Regions from separate parts of the Homo sapiens genome. Here all the other regions are linked to region 3. Evidence: fine-mapped expression QTL. Tissue or cell type: whole blood. Region 3 holds a variant in brackets; each other region holds the start of a gene. Each region is shown on its reference strand, or each on the opposite one.

The links.
Region 1: it holds the start of FSCN3, and the variant in region 3 is fine-mapped to the expression of FSCN3 in whole blood (TOPMed, PIP 0.98).
Region 2: WAS starts here. The variant in region 3 is fine-mapped to the expression of WAS in whole blood (TOPMed, PIP 0.93).
Region 4: CERS2 starts here. The variant in region 3 is fine-mapped to the expression of CERS2 in whole blood (TOPMed, PIP above 0.99).
Region 5: UNC119 starts here. The variant in region 3 is fine-mapped to the expression of UNC119 in whole blood (TOPMed, PIP above 0.99).

The regions. Positions count from the first base shown.
Region 1 is chr7:127,591,334-127,595,477 of GRCh38, forward strand. FSCN3 (fascin actin-bundling protein 3) reads left to right here and starts at 2,403. Exons shown (of 7, transcript NM_020369.3): 1 at 2,403-2,664; 2 at 3,974-4,144. The coding sequence starts at 2,521. It overlaps ARF5 (ARF GTPase 5), which reads left to right. Exons shown (of 6, transcript NM_001662.4): 6 at 1-367. It overlaps LOC105375489 (a long non-coding RNA gene), which reads right to left and starts at 907. Exons shown (of 3, transcript XR_007060513.1): 1 at 796-907; 2 at 480-671.
Region 2 is chrX:48,681,991-48,686,119 of GRCh38, forward strand. It overlaps WAS (WASP actin nucleation promoting factor), which reads left to right and starts at 1,809. Exons shown (of 12, transcript NM_000377.3): 1 at 1,809-1,995; 2 at 2,293-2,433; 3 at 3,557-3,643; 4 at 3,744-3,846; 5 at 3,956-3,997; 6 at 4,091-4,129. The coding sequence starts at 1,864.
Region 3 is chr6:144,034,956-144,039,099 of GRCh38, forward strand. It overlaps a transcript of PLAGL1 not described here and the pseudogene LOC100131041. Among named protein-coding and RNA genes, the nearest start is that of PLAGL1, 29 kb to the left of the region's middle. RefSeq lists an enhancer at 1,606-1,655. The variant C/A (reference allele first, on the strand shown) is at 1,664.
Region 4 is chr1:150,972,500-150,976,643 of GRCh38, forward strand. It overlaps CERS2 (ceramide synthase 2), which reads right to left and starts at 2,336. Exons shown (of 11, transcript NM_022075.5): 1 at 2,120-2,336. RefSeq lists enhancers at 554-1,485, 1,443-1,587, a cis regulatory region at 1,515 and silencers at 1,691-2,180, 2,201-2,640.
Region 5 is chr17:28,550,436-28,554,435 of GRCh38, forward strand. It overlaps UNC119 (unc-119 lipid binding chaperone), which reads right to left and starts at 2,189. Exons shown (of 5, transcript NM_005148.4): 1 at 1,903-2,189. The coding sequence starts at 2,122. PIGS (phosphatidylinositol glycan anchor biosynthesis class S) reads right to left here. Exons shown (of 12, transcript NM_033198.4): 12 at 2,952-4,000. The coding sequence ends at 3,785. RefSeq lists silencers at 1,806-1,855, 1,916-2,365.

The DNA of each region.
Region 1 (4,144 bases), not on the chromosome of region 3:
CCTGCGTGCATCCCCGGGATGACCAGACTCCCGGACTCCTCAGGCAGTGCCCTTTCCTCCCACTTTTCCTCCCCCATAGCCACAGGCCTCTGCTCCTGCTCCTGCCTGCATGTTCTCTCTGTTGTTGGAGCCTGGAGCCTTGCTCTCTGGGCACAGAGGGGTCCACTCTCCTGCCTGCTGGGACCTATGGAAGGGGCTTCCTGGCCAAGGCCCCCTCTTCCAGAGGAGGAGCAGGGATCTGGGTTTCCTTTTTTTTTTCTGTTTTGGGTGTACTCTAGGGGCCAGGTTGGGAGGGGGAAGGTGAGGGCTTCGGGTGGTGCTATAATGTGGCACTGGATCTTGAGTAATAAATTTGCTGTGGTTTGTACACGGTGTTGTCTGTAGCCTGCAAAGGAGAGGCTAGGTTACTGGGTACCAAGAGACAACGTGGGAGAGGATCAAAGCAGCTAAGGCTGCAGGGCAACCCCACCCACACATACCCTCAGCTCAGCTTCTCCCTCCTTATTCTTGGGCTGGAAATACTGTAGGGTTTACAGTGGTGCAAATCTCATTCCTTCCCAGCTCCAAGGAGCCTTTGCTGAAGATTACAGGATCTCCCTTCATAGTTCCATGAACCACGTAATTGTTTCCCATCATTCTCGTAGCTACTTAGAGCCGTTCTTAATGTTTGCCTTACACATTAAAATTAGAGGGGGAGAGAATGTGCGTTAATAATACGAATCCTGAGGTACATTTCAGAAAATGTGATTCATCAGGACTAGTCTGATGCCCAACAATATGCATCTTTAAAATTACCCAGAGGAGGCCGGGCGCAGTGGCTCACGCTTGTAATCCCAGCACTCTGGGAGGCTGAGGCAGGCGGATCACGAGGTCAGAAGATCGAGACCACGGTGAAACCCCATCTCTACTAGAAAAAAAAAAATACAAAAAATTATCCAGGCGTGGTGGCAGGCACCTGTAGCCCCAGCTACTCAGGAGGCTGAGGCAGGAGAATGGTGTGAACCTGGGAGGCGGAGCTTGCAGTGAGCTGAGATCGTGCCACTGCACTCCAGCCTGGGTGACAGGGTGAGACTCCGTCTCAAAATAAATAAATAAATTAAATAAATAAATAAAATTACCCAGGGAATTCTGCCACTAATAGTCTATTACCCTTATTTTATAAAACATCGGTGGGGTCTGGGGCTTGTAGTTCCTTGCTGCACACCACTGAGACTCTTGCTACTTGGGAAGACCCCTCCTATGGGGAATAGGAAAGCAGGTATAAGGAACCACGGGTGGCTGGGCACTGTGGCTCATGCCTGTAATCCTAGCACTTTGGGAGGCTGAGGTAGGAGGATTGCTTGAGCCCAGAAGTTAAAGACCAGCCTGGGCAACATGGCAAGACCCCATCTCTACAAAAAACAAAAATAAAAAATTACCTGGGCATGGAGATGGACACCTGTGGTCCCAGCACCTCAGGAGGCTGAGGCGGGAGGATCGCTTGAGCTTGGGAGATCAAGGCTGCAGTCAACTGAGATGCACTCCAACCTGGCTAGCAGAGCAAGACCCTGACTCAGAAAAAGGAACCAGGGGTGTGGCTTATTCCCCAAGTGTGATCGACTGCCCATTTTCCCTTGGATCCTAGCCAGGCTTAGGCAGAACTCATCATCACTTGTTTTTGCCTTTGTTTTTCTTTCATGTCACTTTTCCAGGTTCTGAGCTGGGTTTTCTCCTCAAGCTTTGCAGGAAGTGAGTCCAAGAGACTATAACTCAGAGATTCTTTGGAGGGGAAAGATACCCTTGCAGGAGCTCTATCTGCCCAGCCAGATGTCCTACCCACTGGCAGAGCAGCTGGGGTTGAGGAGGGGTGCTTGGTGCTCTCTCCACCTAGGCCCTTCTCCTTACCCAGGTCCTGAGCCAGCCTTCCTGATGAATATGAGTAATTTGATGTCAACTGATTAACTAGGGTTTCCTCATACTCCCTGCAAAATAGCATCTGGAACATTTTGACCTCATCCTCCTAAGGGCCATAAAAGCTGATAGATTTTTCTTGGTTATCTTGAACTTAACAAAATACTTGAGTTGCAAGGGAGCCAGGCAGAACTCACTTCCTTGGGAGAAAGGAGGTTGCTTTCTATCCTGTTACCAGAATGAGAAACGGAGGTAAAGAAAGGAAAAAACTTGCCTAAATTCACAGGTTGAAGTTCCGGATCCTGGTCTCAGCTCAGCCTACTTTGGTGCCCAAAGGGGAATAGGAAGGCAAACACCGGAGGCTCTGCACCCGCCTCCTCTAGGCCATGGATTAATGCTGCTGCGCCAGGGCCCTTTCCCCACTGTGGTGTGATAAGAGGCTGCCCTCACAGTCACAATGCTCCCGGGTCACAGAGGTGCTGGGCCCCAGGCCAGCCTCTGCCTGGGAAGTTCTCTCTGGGAACATCTGGTGGGTACTACAGGCCCTATTCCAGGCCCTATGGCCTGTGGAACCTCACCACGGGGGGGAGGGCTGGGCCAGACGGAGACATCACCTGTGGTGTCAGCCCCATGGATGAGACAGAGTGGATACACAGACATCCCAAGGCTGAGGACCTAAGGGTTGGGCTCATCAGCTGGGCAGGAACCTACCTCACCTTTGAGGCATGCAAGAATACAGTCACTGCAACTGCGAAGAGTTTGGGCAGGAGACAGGTGACAAAGCAAACCCATGCTGGCACCAGTTTTCTGAGTGGCCAAGCTGTGTGTGTGTGTGTGCGCGCGCGCGTGTGTGTGCGTGAGTGTATGTGTGTGTGTGTGTGTATGTACTTGCCTGTATATGAAAGTATACTGGAACCGGTTTTCTGAGTGGCCAAGCTGTGTGTGTGTGTGTGTGTGTGTGTGTGTGTGTGTGTACTTGCCTGTATATGAAAGTATACTGGAACCAGTTTTCTGAGTGGCCAAGCTGTGTGTGTGTGTGTGTGTGTGTGTGTGTGTGCGCACTTGCCTGTATATGAAAGCAGGGTGTACTCTCAACCTAATCACTTTCCTAGGTTCTGCCAGTGCCAGGCCTGAGACTTTTCTACTCTAGGCTTTTGTTCACAGACCCTATTGCCCCATCTCCCACCTCTCAATTTATTCCGCAAGGTGAAGCCTCAGCCTTGCCCTTGCTGCCTTGTCCTGCTCTAACTGTCCCTATTCCCCATCCCAGCACAGGGTGGTTGTGTCAGAAAGAAGAGAAGTGGAGAGCACAGGGTGGTTGTGTCAGAAAGAGGAGAAGTGGAGAGCCCAGGTGGGAAAGCAGAATTGTGGGCATCCAGGGGAAGTTGGACCAGTGGAGTTATTGCAAAGCCTATGTTTCTGTTCTGGTTGTGGTTTGAGAATGGGGAACTCCAGAAGCCCTAGCAGTGTCGGTCTTCATTCTAGAGAGGAATGTAGGCACCTCTGGGATGGGTGCCAGACTGAGGCAGGGGCAAAGTTCTTCCTCTTATAACAAGGTTGATCACAGCTGAACCAGGCAGTTGCATCTGAACTGTTCATGCTCCCATCTTCATCCCTGGAGCCAGGGCCTGCCTATAAGAGCTTTTGCTTCTGTCTTGCCATGCTGGAAGGCAACCTTTGGGGATGGAGGTATTGGCTAAGTGTGCTCTCTGCGGACAACAGTGAGGAAGAAAAAAGTAAGACTTACACCAAAGCGTTTCTTTAAAAATTAGGTATTGAAGAGTGGGATTAAGAAAGGAGGGAGGGTTTACCTTCTGTTAGCTGAAGGAGGTAGACATCTAGAACTTCTCTTTGGATAGTGCCATCTGGCTGCAGGGGTGGAAGGGCCCAGAGATCTCTTGATGAGGGGATAGTGGGAAAGTGGAAGAGCTGACAGCAAGGAGATACCAGGGCTGATGTGGAAGAGGAGGTGGCTGGTGCTGATGAAGGTGCCAGGGTGATACCAGCCATGACAGTTGCAGGGCTCCTTGGTCTGGTAACTTCGTGATACTGATTTCCCTCTTCTCCCTCCTGATGCCTCCAGACCTGGGAGATCTTGGTGAGCAATGAGCATGAGACACAGGCCGTGGTGCGACTAAAGAGCGTGCAGGGCCTCTACCTGCTGTGTGAGTGTGATGGCACCGTGTGTTATGGCCGCCCAAGGACCAGCCACCATGGGTGCTTTCTACTGCGTTTCCACCGGAACAGCAAGTGG
Region 2 (4,129 bases), not on the chromosome of region 3:
CAAGTCTCCAAATGGCCTACCTCATACATGGGGAAACTGAGGCCTGGGGAGGCCGGGGACTGAGCTAGCATTCACTTGTGGAAATAGTCTGGCATCATCTGGAGAAGTTAGAGACATGCAAACCCTACAGCCCTCAGATTCCCGTCTGAGAGTCTGCATGCCTATGTGGACCAGGAGATGTGTGCGGGAGTGAACACTGCAGTGTTGCTCCCAACAGCAAGAACCAGAAGCAGCCCAAAGGGCTGTTACAGGAGAATATGGACACCCAGGCTGCACATGCACACCATGGAATGCTGTATGGCAGTGGAAATAAATGAACAGCTACCACTATAGGCAAACAGGAATCACAGCAACAGCCAAGAGTGAAGGCGTGGAGGGACGAGACCATGCACTCACACCTGGCCTGCCTGGCTCGCACTCCGGGCAAAGGGGTCAGAACAGTGACTGGCACACACGTTAAGTGCTATGTGAGTGTTAAGATAAAACTAGGATGTCCAGTGGGGAGAAAGCAAGCCTTTGAAGATTATGTGCTTTTACAAACTTCAAGTGCAATGAAAACTAAACAAGATGTTGTTCAGGCATTCATATATGATATAAAGTTCCTTTCTTTAAAAAAGGGATGGGCTGGGCACGGTGGCTCACGCCTGTAATTCTAATACTTTGGGAGGCCGAGGCAGGTGGATCACGAGGTCGAGAAATCGAGACCATCCTGGCCAACATGGTGAAACCCTGTCTCTACTAAAAATACAAAAAAATTAGCTGGGCGTGGTGGCGTGTGCCTGTAGTCCCAGCTACTTGGGAGGCTGAGGCAGGAGAGTCACTTGAACCCGGGAGGCAAAGGTTGCAGTGAGCCGAGATCGTGCCACCGCACTCCAGCCTGGCGACAGAGTGAGACTCCATCTCAAAAAAAAAAAGAAAAAAAAAAGTATGACAAGCAGAAAGTAATTTGGGAGCTGCGGGGAGGCAAGGGTAAGGGATGGGGAAGTGGACCAGAGGCATATGCGTCATTGGCAGTGTCTAAGCACTCACGATAGGCGTGGATCACAGGGGCTCGCTCTGTAATTAAAAGGAAAAGGGTTTTTGTTGTGTTGTTGTTGTTGCTGTTTTTGAGACAAGGGTCTTGCTCTGTCATCATCCAGGCTGGAGTGCAGTGGTGCAGTCTCAGCTCACTGCAACCTCCGCCTCCTGGGTTCAAGCGATTCTCCTGCCTCAGCCTCCTGAGCAGCTAGGACTACAGGTGTGTGCCACCATGCCTGGCTAATTTTTGTATTTTTTAGTGGAAATGGGGTTTTGCCATGTTGCCCAGGCTCGTCTTGAACTCCTGACCTCAAGTGATCCACTCGTCTCGGCCTCCCAAAGTGCTGGGATTACAGGTGTGAGCTATTGTCCCCAGCCAAAAGGAAAAGTTTTACTGTAGTAACCCTTCCGGACTAGGGACCTCGGGCCTCAGCCTCAGGCTACCTAGGTGCTTTAGAAAGGAGGCCACCCAGGCCCATGACTACTCCTTGCCACAGGGAGCCCTGCACACAGATGTGCTAAGCTCTCGCTGCCAGCCAGAGGGAGGAGGGTCTGAGCCAGTCAGAAGGAGATGGGCCCCAGAGAGTAAGAAAGGGGGAGGAGGACCCAAGCTGATCCAAAAGGTGGGTCTAAGCAGTCAAGTGGAGGAGGGTTCCAATCTGATGGCGGAGGGCCCAAGCTCAGCCTAACGAGGAGGCCAGGCCCACCAAGGGGCCCCTGGAGGACTTGTTTCCCTTGTCCCTTGTGGTTTTTTGCATTTCCTGTTCCCTTGCTGCTCATTGCGGAAGTTCCTCTTCTTACCCTGCACCCAGAGCCTCGCCAGAGAAGACAAGGGCAGAAAGCACCATGAGTGGGGGCCCAATGGGAGGAAGGCCCGGGGGCCGAGGAGCACCAGCGGTTCAGCAGAACATACCCTCCACCCTCCTCCAGGACCACGAGAACCAGCGACTCTTTGAGATGCTTGGACGAAAATGCTTGGTGAGCTGGGGATCTCCTGCCCCCGCCCCGTCCCCACCGTTTCTTCCTCTTCCTCTCCTCCTTCTCTCTCTTCCCCTCCTCCCGCTCCTCCTTTCCCTCTCCATCATCTCCTCTCCTAGAATTTCCCGTCATAATCCACCCTTCCCAGGAAGATCTCAATGTCTACTTGCCTTCCCTCTGGCTGCAGCTCTTCCTTTGGGCCCATGACTGTCATGAGGCAGGAAGGACCAGGTCTGGCTCCAAGACCTTGTGGCTACCCCTGACCAGACTCCACTGACCCCTGCTTTCCTCTCCCAGACGCTGGCCACTGCAGTTGTTCAGCTGTACCTGGCGCTGCCCCCTGGAGCTGAGCACTGGACCAAGGAGCATTGTGGGGCTGTGTGCTTCGTGAAGGATAACCCCCAGAAGTCCTACTTCATCCGCCTTTACGGCCTTCAGGTGACCCCCCCACCCCCGACTGGACTTGCAAGCCAGTTCTCAACCCGCAAACCCAGATCTGTGTCCATATGTGTCCATAGCTTCAAGACCTCAGACCTGATCAGTGAATCCCTGAGCCCCAGAACCAAAGACTCATCCAGATGGCAAACTCTGACTTGCCTTTCTAAGTCTGCAATGACTGGCCCCAGTCTCCGTATCAAGATCTCTAAAGCCCCCAGTATTAGTCTGCTGCCTAAGCCTAATCTTTTCCACAAATTCCAATAAATGAGCACTGTATTTGTACCTGAACCTCAAATCTATTCTAAACTCAACATTTTGCATCCCAGGAATCTCTCATCAAAACTCCTGAACCCCAGATGTTTGCCAAGCTCCTAAGTCATAAATCTGTTCAACAAACCCCAAAGTTGAATATTCCATTGATCCTTGAACTCCAAATCTGTCCTTCTAAATCCACAGCACAGACCCCAGAGTTCCCATATTAAAATTCCTGAACACTCAAATACCGAGGTAGTTCTTAAGCAAAAAGTCTTTTCCACAATCCCCTGACCTGAACTTTCTAGGTTTAAGCCCCAAATTCATCCTTTTAAACCCATAAAGATGGACCCAGCATAACTTCCAGATCCCAAGGCTATCAAATATCCACCAAACTCCTAAACCATAACTCTCTCCACAAACCCCAAATTGCACTTACTTTAGCTGGACTCCCCGCGAAACTCCCAAGTCTATGTGTCTGAACTTCAAATCTCAACTCCAACCCCCAAATACTAGAATCCTACCTGTCATGAATTGGGGCTGGGGTGGTGGGGGAGGGCATGGATTGAATCTGTGAATGAGCCTCAACTTCCTAAGACTAGAGTCCTAAATTATGAAATTCAAGCCCCCAAGTCCCAGATCTAGGGCCCCAAACCCCAAATCCAAACCTCTCACAAAAGTGTATGGCTCCCAGACTATACCCCACAATCCACACCCTTAGACACCAACTCTCTGGTGCTGAGCTGAAAATCTCCAAACCAGACTATGAGGCTCCCAAATCCAGACACCCTGCTCCCTGCCCAGCTAACAAAAGCCTGCCACCCCCGGCGTGCCTCAGTGCCACTGTGCCTCCCACCCTACACCTCTCCAGGCTGGTCGGCTGCTCTGGGAACAGGAGCTGTACTCACAGCTTGTCTACTCCACCCCCACCCCCTTCTTCCACACCTTCGCTGGAGATGTAAGTGATCAACCAGCCCTCGGGCCTCACTTGGGGTGTGGAGAGGAGATGGGAAAGTTGCGGGGGACCTGGGAGGCGGCTGACCCCAAGGTATGTGCAGGACTGCCAAGCGGGGCTGAACTTTGCAGACGAGGACGAGGCCCAGGCCTTCCGGGCCCTCGTGCAGGAGAAGATACAAAAAAGGAATCAGAGGCAAAGTGGAGGTGAGGAGGCCACAGGGGAGGAAAGGAAGTTGGGCAGAGGTGAGTGCAAGCCTGGGGAACTAGAAAAGTCCCCTCTCATGGTCCTGGCTCCCAATCCATCTATCCACAGACAGACGCCAGCTACCCCCACCACCAACACCAGCCAATGAAGGTGAGTCCTCTAGTGCAAGTAGGGGTAATAAGGGGCTAGCCCAGGAACCTGTGGCAGGGCTGTGATAACTCTCTACACATTCCATCTTCCCAGAGAGAAGAGGAGGGCTCCCACCCCTGCCCCTGCATCCAG
Region 3 (4,144 bases):
AGGTAAATTGATGGATGGGTATGTAATACATTGAGAACAGTTAAATGTTAATGATAGAATCTAGTGGTGGGTATAAGGGCATTCACTGTAAAATTCAACTTTCCTGTACATTTCAAAGTTTTTCATACTAAAATGTTTCAGGGGGTTGGGGGTATATTAGGGTTATCTAGAGACACATAACTAATAGGATAGATGTATATATGAGAGGGAGTTTATTAAGGAGAATTGACTCACACAATCACAAGGTGAAGTCATACAATAGGCCTCCTGCAAGCTGAGGAGCAAGGAAGCCAGTGGTAGATCAATCCAAGCACCAAAAACTCAAAGATAGGGAAGCTCACAGTGCAGCCTTCAGTCTATGGCCAAAGGCCCGAGAGCCCATGGAAAACCACTGGTGTAAGTCCAAGAGTCCAAAAGCTGAAGTACTTGGAGTCTAATGTTCAAGGGCAGCAAGCATCTAGCACGGGAGAAAGATGAAGGCCGGAAGACTCAGCAAATCTGCCCTCCCATCTTCTCCTGCCTGCTTTATTCTAGCCGTGCTGGCAGCTGATTAGATGGTGCCCAACCAGACTGAGGGTGGGTCTCCTCACCCAGTCCACTGACTCAAATGTTAATCGTCTTTGGCAACACTCTGACAGAGATGCCCAGGAACAATGCTTTGCATCCTTCAATCTAATCAAGTTGACATTCAATATTAACCATCACAGGGGGCAAGAGGCTTTGTGTCAAATCCCTGTTGCTATGAGTGGTGAGACTAGAACAAAATGCCCAATACTCAAATTACCTCATTTTCTTGTTTTTTCTTCTTTTTGCCTCTAGATATGATACCTCATTTTTTTAATATGTGTAATGTAGATCATTACTGATCTCATATGGTTGATGAGAAAAATGACAATGTCAAGAACATTTCTGGCACTACTAGAGGCCCTCAAATCAAGGGTAGCCACCTGGTGGGGCAAAGAAACGCAGTTCAGGGATCACTGGAGTGGGCTGGTGAGAAACTTCTTTAAGGAGGTGGAGGAGCAGGGGCATTTCTGGGTTTTATTGTGCCTGGATGGCCATCTGATTACGTGTGGCTTAGCCTGGAAACCCTCAATGCAGGACTCCAACCCCAAGAAAGTGCTTCAAGGACACCCCAGGTGGACCCAGAGGGCAGCTACAAGCCGACTTTTATGCTCTGCCTCCAGAATGACTCCTTCCAATGCTCACTAATGCTTAGGGGCCTGAGGAGAAGTCTTTTATGCCCAGAAATGACAACCACTTCCTCTGACTCTAAGAACAGTCCATTTAGGCTATTTCATCTTTGCCAGTTTCATTTTAGGAAACACAAGCCTTATAACACAATCCTGAGGAAATCAGCTGTGAAATACACAGACTTTGTGCAGAGAAGTGGTGCAAGTGTGCAATGCTTCAGTCTTAGTGACTGAAGACAGCCAGCCCACATGCCCAGTACCAAAGGGGCACATGCTCCACACCAAATGGGCAAAAATTCCACAGCCGAGCCTGCCCAGACAAGGGGACCCGCTACACAACTCCACACCCTCAGCACTTTGTGACAGGACAATTACTGCCGCGTGACAGGACTCCAGTCCTGGGGCTGCTACCGGGTGCAAGTGACATGCTGGAAAGAGCGTGGTAGACATCTAGGGGCCAACTCTAGGAA[C/A]ATGTGTTTCTTATTCAGAATAGCTTTTTGTTTTGTTTGTTTTAACTTGTGAGGCTTCTTCACTACTCAGGGACGAAAGAAAGAGGAAAGAATGGAAAAAGTGAAACTACAGAACAGAAATTGTGCAACTTCCAGAAAACTGCTCTAAGACAAGCAAGAAGGCAGACCTGCTAAATGCCCATTATGACACTATTTGACTAAACAGGTTTGAAATACTCTGGCATAAAATGAAGGCCATCCCCTAATGGTTTGTTCTTGGTGTTGGACAAATCATAAAAGGACCAGACATTGCTGTGATGAATTATATGCCCTGGAGAGAGGCAGAAAGTGATTACACCACCTTCATTTGCACATGGAAAGGAAAACTAAAGGTAGTATCTTAAATCTTTCCTTCGCACAGTCTGCTTGCCTCTTGTCACAGAGCACGCCTGCGTGTCTCTAAAAGCATGTGATATTTTAGTGCTTTAATTAAGTATACATGTAAAGGCAAGAGTCCACCTGATACAACACTGATTTTTGAGACTGAATTTTATGCTGTGACCAGAGGACCACTGAACCATTTAAACAGAAAGACACCATGACAGACAACTCTCTAAAACAGAGCTAATCACTACCTAAAAGAGAAGTTTTAAAAAGATGAGAAGCCATGTGACAAGTCATATCAGAATGCAGTTTTAGGCCAGGCACAGTGGCTCACATCTGTAATCCCAATATTTTGGGAGGCCAACGTGGGACAATAACTTGACCCCAGGAATTCCAGACCAGCCTGGACAACACGGTGAAGCCCCATCTCTACCAAAAAAAAAAAAAAAAAAAAAAAATAGCTGGGTGTGACAGTGTGCACCTGTAGTCCCAGCTACTTAGGAGGCTGAGATGGGAGGATTGCTTTTGCCCAGAAGTTCGAGACTGCAGTGAGCTATCATATGATTGTGCCACTGCACTCGAGCCTGGGTGACAGAGCAAGACTCCATTTCTAAAAAAAACAAAAACAAAGCAGTTTTAGAAGATATTTTAAAGAAAAATGATCATGATGGTGACAGTTTCATTTCTTTTAAGGAATACAATGCATATCAACATTATGAACTATGTTTTTTATTTCTATATTTTCTTAGATATTTACTGTCTTTGTTTACAAAATAGTCACTTTCACAAAAAAACCCAAACCCAAACTACTGCTTTTGATGTTGTGCTATTGTACATAGAAATGTACACAGTAAGGTTCTGCAATGAAAAGCACGTACTCTTGAGACTTAGTACTGCTTTGATTCATTGTTCAGGCTACAATTTCCCCCCTTAGAATGTAAGAAAAGTTAGCGCTTGTCGCCAATAAATGGTAATACTAAAATGAACTAACTCCCACCTATGCAAAGAGAAAAATAATTGAAAAAAATGAGCAAAGTCTCTGAGATCTGTGGGAACAATATCAAGTTGTCTAACAGATAGTAGTTGGAGTCTCAGATGGAGGATAGTAATAGCATTTGACAAAATAATGGCTGAAAATGCTACACATCTGATGAAAGCGATAAGCCTGCAGATCTATGAATCTTAATAAACTCCAAAGCACAAAAAATAAAGCTACATGTGTTAAGACGGTAATACGACTGAAACTTATCTACTTATTGTTTGTTTGTTTGAACTTGTGAGGCTTCTTCACTACATAAGGTTGCCCTATCAAGATTTTGGTTAATTTCATTGTAGAAACTGACAAGCTGTTCCTAAAATTCATATGAAAATTCAAGGGAACCAGAATTACCAAAAAATCTTGAAAGAGTAGAACAAAGTTAAGGGGCCATCCTCCCTAATTTCAAAACTTACTACAAAGCTACAGTAATCAAGACAATGAGGTACTGGCATTAAGGCTAGCTATAGATTAATGAATAGAATCAAGCACCCATAAATAAACCCATATGTCTGTACCCAGTAGATTTCTGACAAGGATGCCAAGACAATTCAATGGGGAAAGAATAGTTTTTTTTCAATGAATGGATAAATAAAATGACATGTCCAAACAAAGAAATATATTTGGAAATAAAAATAAATGAAGTACTGATACATGCTACAACATGGGTGGCCTTTGAAAACATTATACTGTGTGAAGAAATCAATCACAAAGAACCACATATTATATGATCCCATTTATATGAAATGCCCAGAGTAGCCAAATCTAGAGAGACAGAAAGTAGATTAGTGACTGCCTAGGGCTAAAAGTGATGAAAGGAGTGGGGATGATGACTAAATGAAAAAGTCATAAACTTGATTATAGTGGAAAATGCACAACTCTATGAATATACTAAAAGCCATTTTAAATGGGTGAATTGTATGATATGTGAACTATATCTCAGTAAGTTGTTTTTTACAAAAAGAAAAGAAAACCATGCCAAGAGACACATCATAAAAATTGCTGAGAGCCAGTAATATAGAAAATAAATATCAGAAGTAGCTCAGGGATAGGGGAAAGACATAAAGTAAAAACACAAGCCA
Region 4 (4,144 bases), not on the chromosome of region 3:
AGAGGCTGGGGCAAGAAAAGCTGAAGTGTACACACGGTAAGGAGACAACCCTGTTTTTCCAGGCCCCCTGGGCCTTCAGGGCAGTTACTTGACTTCTTATGGAGAAAATCACATCTAGAAACACTTTTCCACCCAGACTTCACTCCCCCATACACATGAAGAGACATGGTATCTGTCTACGCTCTCTCTCACACACACCTGCCTTGGAGGCACAGATGCCACTTTCTGAGGCACAGGCTGGAGAGGGGCCAGAAGAGCAGGGATTTAACTGGCATTAGATTAGCAGGAACTTGAGCAGGACTCTGTCCAGCCCCAACCTTTGCCCCAACTCTGACTGACACCCCCACAAGACCCCTCTAGGTGGATGAAAGGAGCAGAGGATCCCCATGGGAGTTTGTAGATCCAAACGGCTGAGAAGGCAGAAGTTTCGGCCTGAGAGGAAGGAATTCTCTCAGACTCCAGGTGGTCAGTCTGACTGGCTCTCATAGTTTGGAAGAATAACTGAGGAAAATAGAAAGGAGTTGTTGACAAGGGAGGAGTGACAAAGGTCCCACCGGCTCCCTGCTTCCACTGAAGAAGTCCTGAATAGTCTTCCTTGTTGAAAACTTTCAGGCAACAGAAGCAGGTCATGTACTAGAAGTCTACAAGCCATGGATGGAGCCAATGAGAGGTGTGTTATCCCTCCAGGCTGCAGGATGGGCCTCAAAATAAGCCAGATTGTAAAAAAGAGGTGGGTGAGAGGCAGTCAGAACAGTAGTCCTCAGCCTCATCTGGCCTACAGCTTGTCTGCAAAGTCCCACCAAAGGCCTCCACGGACCAAAACACTGCATGAGACTATGGCCCCAGGGGCAGGGAGACGCCGGTGGGTTTGAGAGACAGCTGGGGCGGTGTTGAAGGACACAGTGAGGGATCAGCCAGCCTATGGCCAGTGACAGGGGTAAAAGGAGGCCCTTCCTCCCAGGGGAAAATCTGGCCAGAGGCCCCAGTGAGGGAAGTGGGGGACCAGGGGAGAAAAGGATCCCTCTCTGGAACAGACTGTGCAGATCACGGTATGGTCAGCGCCAGGTCCTCAGGGACAGGACTGCAGGCAAGTCCTTACCCTTAGGAGCCCCTTTACATGTGCAGCCACTCACACCCCGGTGCGGTCATCCCGACTCCGGTATGCGGCAGCAACCGCCACCCACCCCTGCCCCAGCACAGATATGGGGGTGACTGCCTGCTGGAGGCCTGCTCGGACTCACTTCTCCAGGAACAGGGGCTCACTGCATTCGCCACGATCCTCAGAACCCCCTGAACCTGGGCCTGGCAACTCAGGTGACTGAAACCAGGTTTTGATGCCAGGAGCTAGGCTTAGGGAGGGAGAGACTCCAACTGCAGGCTAAAGATGAGTGCTCTACACCTGCAGTCAACCCACTTGCCACGGGCCTCTAGTGATTAACAAGCTACGGCCCAGAAAGCCAGTTCCACCAGGAGCTCCCTTGCCAGCCATCCACACCTCATAACGGTATGCCTTAGCCCTACCGGGCCGGGGCAGGCGCTCCGGGCCGCTCCTTCCTGTTTCCCGTTAAGCACATGGAAGCTCTGACCTCGCCTGCGAGGTGGGCACGGTGGGCCGGTAGGAAGAAAACGGGGCAGGGCCCTCCCCTCTCCTCCCACCCAAGCCACAGGACGCGTCCAGGCCAGGGCAACCCCGCGGGCCGCTGCCAGGGTGGAGGCTCTCGCGCCAATGGTCACCAAGCTCCTCCACTCCCCAACAAAGGGAAGCCCACGGCTCGGCCCCGTCGCCCGCAGCCCCCGCGTCCCCACCTTCCGCCCTACCTGTTGCCCGGGAAAGCTTCTCCGGCTCAGGGCGGCGCTGCCGCGGACACCGCGGCGCCAGGCCCGCCGGCCCCGGCCGCTCCCTTGAGGCGCTGCGCCCGCCTTACCCGGCGGCCGCCGCCATGAGCGCCCGCAGCGCCCCCCGCCAGCGCCGCCTCCCTCCTCGCCCCGGCCCCGCGGCCTTCCCAGCCCGACCCCTCCGCGGCCCCGCGACAAAGCGGCACCCGGGGCTCCCAACTTTTCCGCAGCCCCTTCCCACCCCCGCGCGGGGCTCGGGCGCCGGGCGGGGGCCCCGACTCACCCGGCGGCAGCGTTGGCGGGGCCGGGGCCGCTGCTCCGTGTACTCCGTCTGCTCGGGTGGTTGCTCCGAGGCCCCGAGGCCTGGCTCCCCGCGCCTCTCCTCCCTCTTCCGCCCGCCCGCCGGCCCGCGCCCGCCCTCGCCCTCCCTCCTCCGCCAGCCGCCGGCGCCGCCGCCGCCGCCCGCCGAGCCCAGTCGAGCTGAGCCCGAGCCCAGCCGGGAAAAAAAGGCCGCGAGCAGCCCAAGGGCCGGGAGGCTGGGCGTGACGGGAGGGGAGGGCGGGGCGGGCCTCTGCGCTGCGGCTGCCCCTTCGCCCCGGCGCGGGAGGCCAGACCCCAACCCTCCGCTCCCGGCCCCACAGCCGCGTCCACGCCCGTCACCTTGCGCTAGAGAAACCGCCGACCTGGGGAGGCGGGTGCGGGCTCCTTCCGCCACTTCGGTCTCTTTTCGGGGTGGGAGGTCTCCCACTGGGACCGACACAGACGCACTGGATGCCGCGGGGTCCCGGGCTCCGAGCGGCGGTGTCCCTGTCCCCTTACTCCTACCCACCCCCACCCACCCCCAACTGCTGTGCGGCCCCCGGTCCCCGCCAGGGTGGGCACATTCCCACTTCCAGCCCCACGGGGCGCGGGCGGAGGAGGGTGCAGCCCGGGGATCCTGCCCAAGTGCCTCGCGCCGAAGCTGAAAACCTCTCCAGGGCAGACCGAAGCAGCCGACCCTCGAGACCCAGTCGGAGCCTGCGATCACTCGGGCGACCCTCGCCTACCCCGCCGTAAAAGCCGCGGCCTTTCCACCTAGGTGCTACGGGACCTACCCCCGTGGCAAGGAAGAGCAAACCCGAACTTGCGCACACCCGGCGGCCCTGTCTGAAAGAGCCACCCCAACTTTTGTTTTGTAAAATGTATGAGTTTTCAAATGACACCACGTTTATCCGTATTCGATTTCGTGTTAAAAAGTGTTTTCCGGCCGGGCGCGGTGGCTCACGCCTGTAATCCCAGCACTTTGGGAGGCCGAGGCGGGCAGATCACCTGAGGTCAGGCGTTCGAGACCACCCTGGCCAACATGGTTAAACCCTGTCTCTACTAAAAATACAAAAATTAGCCGGGCACGGTGGCTCGCGCTTGTAATCCCAGCTACTCGGGAGGCTGAGCCACGAGAATCGCTTGAACCCTGGAGGTGGAGTTTGCAGTGAGCCGAGATCTCGCCACTGCACTCCAGCCTGGGCGACAGAGTGAGACTCCGTCTCAGGAAAAAAAAAAAAAAAGTGTTCTCCCCTTGGCCTGGCGCCGTGGCTTATGCCTGTAATCTCAGCACTTTGGGTGGCCGAGGTGGGCAGATCACTTGAGGTCAGAGTTCAAGACCAGCCTGGTCAACATAGCGAGACCCCCAACTCCTTTATAAATTTAAAAAAAAAAAGTTTTCCCCTTGAGTCGTGTGGTAAAATTACTGTTTCAGAAGTAATTACTGTTGGAAGATGCAACATGGTTTTCCTAGAAAGCTGGTCTTAACTCCTAACGTGAACGAGTGGTGACTAAGATGTATTTGAGGGCTCCTATACAGGGAGAGCTGCAGCTTACTCCATGGAGAGGTACTTTTGTCAAATTTCTCACCTAGATGAAGTATTGCCTTTTTTATGCTGTTGCAATCAGAGCCTCTGACAGTAGCTTGTTTCCCCGTTTATCTGGTCAAGTACTCGTAGGAAGGAGTGCAACCCCCACTAATCCAGTTGGAGGGCCCATCCCTCATCTCAGGCCCTTTCTGGAGGGTAAGGAGGTAGAGGCTGTCCGACCCAACTGTTTGTTCTGCCTCTCTTTTCAGGGGGACCCGCAGCCCTGACACACCATGGGAAAGATGAGAGTGGTGGCCCCTAACCAGCTCCCAGGGTTTCTCTAGGCTTTTCTAAGCCCCAGGCCTGCCTGATCTCCCAGTTTCCAGCAACCCCTCCAGCTGTGTTTTTCTCCTCCCTCCCTTATTAGCATATCTTCCATTGTATCTTTCTTTCCTTTCTTTTTTTTTTTTTTCCTTTGG
Region 5 (4,000 bases), not on the chromosome of region 3:
AAGAAGTGAGGAACACGGATATCTATGGCTCAGAACACCACGGCCACTCCTTCTCTTCTAGAAAGGATGAGGCCTGGGACCCAGGGTCAGGTCAGAATAAGGGGCAGAGTGGCCAAGGGCTCAGAACACAACTGCTCTATTCCTCTCAGCCACAAATAGCTTCCTAAGCTGGATTCAGGGCCCAGTAATCTGGGAACAGCAAACCTCAGACCTGCATGATTAGGGTCAGAAGAGACCAGGCAAGGGGTGCCAGGGTGGAAATCCCTGGAACTCTGTTCTCAATTCCTGCACAGGAAGGGGTTCTCATGAAGCCCTTTCCTCTACTTACCCTTCACAGATGCCCCATCTCTAAGGGCTATGAATTTCCTCCAAATTAGGAGACAAATGGTGGTACATGAGCTGGAAGCTCCCTCTAGTTGCAAAATAAACCCCCAAAGTTACTCAGGACTCAGTCAGTCTGAGAAAGTTCTGCCCCAGAGCTAAGCTGAATCCTAAATGCTGCTATTGCAAATTGTAGCCCAACTGGCTTCAACATCAGCCTGGTCCAGCCTCCCTCTCTCCATTGATGCCTGCTTGGGCAAGGGAGCTCAGTACTCTGGGGGCCCAGCTAAGAATGGCTGCTGCCTAGCTCAGTAAGGAGAGAGGAATTGGCCCCCAGGGACCCAGGAGCACAGGCTCAAGGCTGTCTCCCCTCCACAGCTCTGTCTGGGAGTCCGGTGTTCTGCTGCTTTGGAAGCTCTAGGGCTCAGGTCCACTCCAATACATGCCCCCCATACCCACAGAGAGGCCCCCCCCAACAGTTATTCTCACAAAGGGGGCCAGGGCAGGTTGCTGGTGAATGTGGCCAAGGTGGAGAGCCACTGTCTCTCCATGCACCTTTCATCCTTTGAGGCTCATCCAAAGCCTCTGCTATGAGGTTTCCTAGCCCTCGTTCCCTGCCTATGATGACCCCCTCCCCTGCCCTGAAAGCCAAGTTGTTTGACTCCAGGCAGCAGCTATGAGCAGCCCTGTAGGGCCCAAAAATACTACTGATCAAAGAGCCCAATGTACACAGCATGCATAGATGCCAGGCACTGTACAGAATCAGAGGACTTATCTTCACAATAATCTTACGAGAAAGGTATCATTATCCCCATTTTACAGATGAAAAGACATGCTCAGAGAGGTGAGGTTACTTGCCCAAGGTCACACAGACAATTATATGGCAGAGTTGGAACTCCAACCCAGGCAGTCCAGCTCAGAAACTCTTAACCACAGTGGAGACCAAGCCTCCCTTGATGACAGAGCCCCCAGAAGAGGACAGGTGCTAGTCCAGGCTTGGAGGGACATTATGCCACTCCCCATGAGAGGAACCACAGCCAACACACTAAAGCTGCCTGCTCAGTTTCTTTCCCGGGGAAGAAAATGGCCCAAGTCTTCCTGGAGGATCAGGGTGAGGGTATTAATGGTTGGGGAGACATGAAGAGTCTGAATGCCTCCCAAGTAACTCAGCCTCCACCTAGCCTCCAGCGTGGGGGCTGAGGACAGGCTGCACTCAGCCCCTCTCTTCATTAGTGCAGGGACGGGCCTCAAAGCGCTCTGGAGACTCCACAGCTACAGGGCTATGGTTGCAGCTGCTGCCGCACGTACCTCCACGCTGGGAAAAGGGGACGGGCCCCTGGAAAAGGAAGGAATAAATCTCGAAAGGGAGAAGAAGGAGGCACAGAGAGAGATCAAGGGAAGGGGGTACACAGAGATCTCAGACCTGGCGGCAGAAGGGAGAGCAGGGGACACAGGAGAGGGGACTCGGTGGGGGAGGGGAGGCGGGAAAGGGGGCGGGGGCCAGGGCTTGGCGCGCCGGGAGGGCCCCTCGCACCCTCTCCCCTTCCCACCCGCGGGCGGCGCTCCCTCGCGGGTGCTCACCACCGGTGATCCGCTGCAGCCCCAGCACGTCCTCCGGCCCGATCGGCTGCTTCCTCTGCAGCGGCCCCGGCCTGGGCCCTGGGCCTGCGTCCGGCTCCGACTCGGACCCAGATTCGGATTCCGCAGGCGGCTGTGGTATGGGGGCCACGCTCTGGCCCGAGGGCCCCGGAGCGGACTCCGTCGCCGTCCCGGCCCCACCGCCGCCCTTCTTCACCTTCATGGCCTTGCGGGGCCGAGGCTCGCCTGCTGCTGCCGCCGCTGCCTGCGCCGGCTGGAGCCGGGGGAAGTGGGAGCATCCGCAGCCCCGCCCCCGGCCGGGGCCCCAGGTACTGCCCCGCCCCGGCCCCGCCCCTGGGGTGGGCCCTGCGCTGATCCCGCCCGCCGCCCGGCCCAACCCTCCCGAAATGCGACGGGCGCGGGGGATGGGAGTCGGGGTATCCTGCCCTGGGCTTCATTCTGTTTTTCTAACACTTTCTTGTACTGGTACTAGTGGGGTCCTGACTACCTCTCCGCTTACTCATTGTGTTCCAGCCTTTCTGCCCGTGAGTTCCAGGCTCAGGGTCTCTGCTTGGATGGTCTTCCCCAGATGGCCTCTTTTCTCCTAGTCACAGCTCAAATGTCATCTGCTCAAAGGGCCTCCCTCACACCCAGTCTGAAGTCCTTCCCCCTCAGTCACCATCTGACCAGCCTGTTTTTGTCTTTCTAATGCATTATGTGAAATTATTTTTATTTGTCCGCTGACTCTTCCCCCTGAAAGCTCAGCTCTGTGAAAGCACTGGTCCTGCCTACTTTGTTCTCTGTAGGACCCCTGTACCTAGCAGAAGGCTCCCTGCAGCTGGTGCTCAAGACTTTTTTTTTTTTTTTTTTTTTTTTTTTGACCTGATGAATTAGTATCTCAGGTAAAAAGCAGATGCTAACAGCCTTGGGCAATCCAGCTAGGAAGGGCACATGGCCACGTGGAAGCAAAGTGGACCTGTGGGCACAGGAGGACAAACACCAGGAAACTGTTACTTACGCGTGAATGCAGAAAGAGTAGAGCTCAGACTTTGTATCATTCCAATTCATATTCAGCCAGTGTTTATTAAGAGCCTACTACACGCCAGACACTTTACATGCTGATCACATTTACTCCTCACAACCATCTTGTAAGGGAGACATCATCAGTGCCATTTGAACAAATGAAAAACTGAGGCTCAGAGAGATTCAATACCTTATCCAAAGCTCTCCAGACAATAAGTGCAAAAACAAGGATTTGAATTCAGGACTGTTTGATTCCAAATCTGGAACTTTCTGGAACCTCTGACACACACACACACACACACACACACACACACACACAGCACCATGTCCTGAGCTGCTGCCTCCTGGACTCCCGCCAGACTGCACCTGACAGACAAAGCCAACTAGGAGGGAGGGGAGTGAGGGAGAAGGTCCCACAGGTGACCAATGCCTGGCCCCTTCATGACAGCAGGGGCTAGGGCTGTCCCACAGGGACTAGAGAGAGGTGTGGAAGGCAGGGACTTTCCCATAATGCTCCCTCCTCTCAGTGCACAAGTGTGCTATGTTGAGAAATGGGGCAAAAGAACAAACAGTCCTTGCCACAGAGGGAGACAGGCAGCAGCCTTATCAAACAAGATAAGGAGACCCGGATGATGTGCCTTTTGAGGCCCCTGGTGGTGGAGGAGGATTGAGCCAGGTGAATGGGAAAGGAAGAAAAGATGAACCCATCTTGGAGTGTTGTACTTTGGTTGCTGGAGAGCCAACAGTGGAGACTGGAGACAAATATTTAAGTCATTCCGGCAGGCCCCATGTACGTGCCTCACAATCTAACACCGCCCACCTTGGCCAGAAAGGAAGGCTTCCTATGGAGGTGCTGCCCTGCTCAGTCTGTCTTCTCAGGCTTTCTCCAGGACTTGCGGGTCTCCAGGAAGATCTTGACCAGGGACAGGAGGATGGGCACAGCCATAGGCAGGAAGAGTGGGATGTAGATGGCAAACTTCTGGTCATCAGGGAAATAAAGGAGGTGGAGGAGTGACGGGTCAAAGAAGGCAAGCTCAGAGGATGTCACAGCTTCCTGGCTGGCGACAAAGGCAGATGC